Linked DNA regions of Homo sapiens: region 1 is linked to region 2. The links come from fine-mapping of genetic effects on gene expression. A gene starts in region 2. The other region holds a variant in brackets. All regions are shown on one strand. Distances are between the middles of the regions.

Region 1 (2,920 bases), 80 kb before region 2:
CAAGACAGTTTAACTTACTTGCATGCATACTTGTCCAATGCTTCAATATACATGCACACACCATCATGGAGGCAGTACCCATCGTGGGACAGGGGACATTCAGAGTCACTATTTCTTACGGAATAGTGGTGGTCATCTTCCCTGAGGTGAGGGGGTGGAGTAGAGTCTAAAAGAACCCAAGACATTACTTTTACTTTCTGAATGGATTAGTGTCTTTCAAGTATCAATATGAGGAACTAGTTTCTGTGAATAGTTTGTGACATAAATCTTTTAGTGACAGAAGAACTACTAGAAGGGACAATAGTTTCACTTTCCTAGCTAGACCTTAGTCATTCACTATGAAACCAGCCGTTCTTCCTTTGGGCTCAGTATTATCTGATACATAAAGCATATTGGAGGCAGGTAAAAGAACACCCAGTCCTAAGTCGCCATGTGAATTCAGAGTCACTGATCTCATAAAAACAAACCTGTCACACACAAACATACACTAACCATGTGAAGTGACAGTTAGCTTCAAGGTCTCACTGAACAACTGGTAACTCTATGGTTTAAAACCTACCCATCAATGTGCAGTCCGTTACCTCCAATATCCTGGAGTCTCGAAAATTTTTTCTCACAGTGCTTTCTTCTAAAAACTAACCTTCAGAGGAGCCCTCAAGGACAAGACTGTAGCAACTCTGGCAGGAAGAAAATGTTCCCGTAACAGAGGGCATGCCAAAATATAATAGTAAAGTCTCTTTTATTGAATGGTTCACTGCTCCTTAAAAGGTAAACATGTGCAGCTGACTACATAAATATAAGCAGTTTTTCAGTACCTTTAAGAAGAGCAAATTATTTGAGAAAAATAATATGCTAAAAAAAAAAAAACAGAGACCAAGTAAGCACAGAATTTTTCTTCTTAGGATGTTTTCTGCTTATAGGGCTGACAGGCAAAAAGTGGGCAGTGATGGGAAAGACCCCCATCCTGGTCTCCAGGGTCTAGGTGAAGCCAGCTCCCCTTCTGGGGTGCTGATGGTGAGATGTTACTGCTGTTATGGGAAGAAGATTCAGGAAGCAGGAGTCAACCATTATGAATATTGAGAAAAGAAAGAGAAGAGAGCTGGAGTTCTAATTCAGAACAAGAAATACTGCCTTTTTAAAGTAATATTTTAAAATCCTTGAAAGTGATTTAAAATGCTGAGTCCAGACATTCTCACCGACCTGCCTAGCCCTGCAAAACTTATCCAGCAGCCCCACAAATTGACATTACAAATAGTGAGATTAGTTGCACAGTTGAAGAGAGATACCCATGTTCCCATCTTTATTGGATTGTGAGTAATAAAAAAGGATTTATTCCAGATGCTATTAAATTAAGAAAACTTGGACCATTTCAAATTCTCAAGCCCAGCATCGTCCTAATCAGGAAAGCCAGCTCTGCAGCCTGCCTGAACTGAATGATTTTTAGAATCTCTAATGCAAATAGAGATTAGGGTATAGAATATCCCCGAGCCAAGTCCCTCCCCTTCACTGTAGACCACCCACCAACCTACCAGGGCAAATCAGTCCTGGTTCAGACAGGCGTCCAGCACACATGCAGGTATAGCCTCCCTCTGTATTTGTGCAGCTGGCATTCTCTCCACAGCTGTGC[T/A]CCCCCAGTTGGCACTCATCAATATCTGTCAGAAAAGACAGAGTACGGGAGAGAAAAGTGGGGTACAGAAAAAGAGGGTTTTATAGTTGGACAGCCTTTGGAAGAGGAGCTTCATCAGCTTCTGTCATGCTATATGTTCTCAGAGACCTATATATTTTTTTAATATATATTTTTTATTATACTTAAAGTTCTAGGGTTCACATGCACAAGGTGCAGGTTTGTTACATATGTATACATGTGCCATGTTGGTGTGCTGCACCCATTAACTCGTCATTTATTTTAGGTGTATCTCCTAATGCTATCCCTCCCCCCTCCCCCCACCCCACAACAGGCCCCTGTGTGTGATGTTCCCCACCCTGTGTCCAAGTGTTCTCATTGTTCAATTCCCACCTATGAGTAAGAACATGCAGTGTTTGGTTTTTTGTCCTTGTGATAGTTTGCTGAGAATGATGGCTTCCAGCTTCATCCATGTCCCTACAAAGGACATGAACTCATCATTTTTTATGGTTGCATAGTATTCCATGGTGTATATGTGCCACATTTTCTTAATCCAGTCTATCATTGTTGGACATTTGGGTTGGTTCCAAGTCTTTGCTATTGTGAATAGTGCTGCAATAAACATACGTGTGCATGTGTCTTTATAGAAGCATGATTTATATTCCTTTGGGTATATACCCAGTAATGGGATGGCTGGGTCAAATGGTATTTCTAGTTCTAGATCCCTGAAGGAATCACCACACTATCTTCCACAGGGGTTGAACTAGTTTACAGTCCCACCAACAGTGTAAAAGTGTTCCTATTTGTCCATATCCTCTCCAGCACCTGTTGTTTCCTGACTTTAAAAATATGGAACGCTTCACGAATTTGCATGTCCTCCTTGCGCAGGGGCCATGCTAATCTTCTCTGTATCATTCCAATTTTAGTATATGTGCTGCCAAAGCGAGCACAGCCCTATACATTTTTAGGTTTAAGGGGACTTTCATGAATGTTGGAGAGATGAACTAGGTCCTACAACGCATGCCCATGCACGTGTTGTTTTCCTTTTTTGTTTCCGTTCTTTCTCTCTCTGTCTTTTTTTTTTTTTTTTTTTTTTTTTTTTTTAAAGAATCTTGCTTGGTTGCTAAGGATGAGGTACAGTGGTGTGATCATGGCTCATTGTAGCCTTGACCTCCTAGGGTCAAGCAATTCTTCCAGCTCAACCCACCAAGTAGCTTGGACCACAGGCTTGCATCACTATGATTGGTTAGTTCTTGTTTGCTTGTTTGTTTTTAATTTTTTTTTTGTGGAGAACAG
Region 2 (2,920 bases):
GTGTACTGTCTTCCATAGGTGTCTCTTCTGGAAACTGTACTGTGTTTTCCCCCTCAATCTACCTCTTTTTAAAAGCCAGACGCCATCTCAAAAGGGCAAGCTGATAAAAATGGAATGTCGGGGCAGCTATAACCTCTCATCAACAAAGGCGGCTGCCGTGTCTAAGCAGCAGGTTGGAGGCTCACCCAAGGATTAAATAAATGAATTAACAGTTAGAGAGAGAATGTTTTTCAGGCAATATCCTTTGGCAGGATTGTAATTCGCATTCAGTCAAGCTCCCATTTCCCCTTGGCAAAAAATTCATTTAATATGAGAGGACAGTGTGGCTTATTTACCCATTATCATATTTGGCAGTTCTTAAAGTTGCAATGCACCTGTTACTAAAACTCCGGAGTTGTGTCAGAGCCTCAGAAACAGTAAGAGTGGGGAGAAAGTGAAGGAGGTTGAAATTGAAATTTAGGTTAATTTTCACAACTACCTTTGTTCACAGTTCCCTTTCCATTTTTCACTAATTTTTAGAACTTCTGAATTCTTACAAGTTATCAGAAGGAAGGATTTTTTTCTTTGTGGCTTAAGAGTTTCAAACAGACAAACAAAAAATCAACCATCTGTTTCCCTAATTTCCAAGCAATTAGCCAGGTGTTAATTACTCCTCTTGTCAGAGTAAAAGCTGAAGCTTCCATGAAATGTTCTGCTAGTTTAAAATGAGGCATATTCATTCACTTATACACAGAAGTACAGTTTGAGAGTTATGAAGTTTTATAGTTGGTAGCAGATTAGCTCTAATGGCCAGTAAGAAAATAAACATGCATCAGAAAACAAAAATTAAGCAACTATACATACCCAAAGACAAACTTTGTTAAATGCCCAAGTATACCAGATTGAACCAACAGGGATGTGGGGGCAGTTTCCCGGAGACCTGGAGCACCTTTTCATTGGAGTACTTACCCACACAAGTAGAATTCCCATTTCCTGCGAGAGTACCTTCAGGACAGCTCCAGTGCTGCGGTGCTGAGAGACTAACAAAACTAAATTTTGAAACTACTGGCAACAGAATGATAAGAGTGAGCAGCATAATCTTGATGAGTTTGAACTTTCAAAAGAAAACAGCTTGATTTTGCTGGAGCATGGCCCGGGCAAGGTGAGTATGATTGACCCCAGATGCGGCTGCCTGAGCGGAGGCCTCAGCCCTGGGGCATCTTTTACTCTCCTGTTGTGCTGTTGTCCTCCAAGCTCTTTCTTCAACTGAGAGACCTTCTGAATGCAGCCTGCCAAGGGAAGCCACAGGAAAGATTTCTTTATCTATGTTTCTTTGGAAGCCAGTAAGAAATACCTGACACCCTTATGACAAATTTCACAGAGTTTAACAGCCCTGCTCTGGCTGACTTCACTGTGACAGAGCAAGGCAAAGGCTTAGAGAGGAAAAAGAAAGGAAGAACTGATGGAAAGTTCCAGCTACAACCCTTGGATTGGGGCTGAAAGAAGAAATATGGAGATACGATTCCTCTCCCAACAGTTTCTCTTTTTGAAAAGTGGAATGACTCAGCTTTGCTTTTTAAAGCTCTTCAGGCTCCACCTCCTTTCCTTTAGTGACACTTGAGTGAGCCTCTGTTTGCAAATGCGAATGTGGGCAATTCCTCCACACAGGAAAGCAGGGATGACTGCCAAAGAGGAGATAACTCGCTACTCACCATAAATATCCTGGGCAGAACTGGGAGAGAGGAGTTGGGGGCTGTGGAGGTGCTCATGGTGAATGGCGGGAACTGCTAAATATTGGCTATGTTTTAATGTCTGGAAGGATGGAGACAAAATTAAACCATGCAGTATAAATCAATAATAAGCAGCACTGTTGATAGTTTGGATTGATAATAATTGATCATTCACATGAGCAATAGTAAAGATAGTTCACCTTCAGCCCATTATTTGAACGAAATGTCAATACCAGTGCACATTCCAGGAGCTTTATCTTATTTTTCTCTTTCTCCTGTATAGTTTATAGCGGAATTTGAAAGATTATTCTTTCCAAATCAAAGGGAAATCCCTGAGGCCAAATGAAGAGATACAGTATGGACAGACACCTTTTCTTTCAGCATGAGCATGATAAAACATCACGAGGGGCCAGGAGTGCAGAGAAAGGAGTGGATTGTTATTATAGGGACATTGGAAAAAATAAGCTAACAGTGCAAAGCTGGGAAGCACTGGAAATCCAGCACAGAGGAATGCTTTTCCTTCTAAGATAATTTAGGCTTTTTTTTTTTCACATCTCTGTGATAGAAAATAAGAACTGGACGTATCTGTTAGCTGTCTCCTCAACCACTTTCTACTTGGAGCAACAGTGGTTATTTCTTCAGGAGTACAACTAGGGCCCAAAAATACCCAGAAGGCAAACAACTTATAGCAGATTTGATGCACGATGGAAATTTCTGTCAGTTTACTCCATCCTGGAAAATGGACTTTCATTTAAGTTACCCTGAGGTAGTGTTCCAAGTGCTGGTCAAAAATGTACGTAAAAGCAATAGTCACAAAAACAACTGTCACACTAGTGAACACCCCATTACAGAGGAGAACAGACTAACTCTAAGCCTTTTACTCATACTTAATTATGTCCTGATTATTCTCCAAAGACTGGATCACTTTCCTGAAACAGCTTAAGTCAGGATTTCTCCTATTTCAGCCAGCCTCTGCCAGGCAGCTCTGAACCCTTACAGGAGAAACAGACCCTGGGGAAGGGGGAAAGAGAAGTCCTTTAGGTGGTTATGCGGAATATTCCATTGCTTTCTGGACTGAGTCAGACTCAAGACTCATAATGAGCATCCTACAAATAACCTGCACTGACTCTTCGAGTTACTAACTTTATTAATAAGCTTCCCTTTCAGCACAATACATTGCCAGCATCCCAGATGACAGCAATGGAAGGGGC

Evidence for each region.
Region 1: its variant is fine-mapped to the expression of EGF in whole blood (INTERVAL, PIP 0.94).

Annotation. Positions count from the first base shown.
Region 1 is chr4:109,991,979-109,994,898 of GRCh38, reverse strand. It overlaps EGF (epidermal growth factor), which reads right to left. Exons shown (of 24, transcript NM_001963.6): 19 at 1,530-1,652; 20 at 19-166. It also overlaps the pseudogene RNU6-35P. Among named protein-coding and RNA genes, the nearest start is that of EGF, 81 kb to the right of the region's middle. RefSeq lists an enhancer at 112-401. The variant T/A (reference allele first, on the strand shown) is at 1,628.
Region 2 is chr4:109,911,491-109,914,410 of GRCh38, reverse strand. It overlaps EGF (epidermal growth factor), which reads right to left and starts at 1,528. Exons shown (of 24, transcript NM_001963.6): 1 at 949-1,528. The coding sequence starts at 1,075.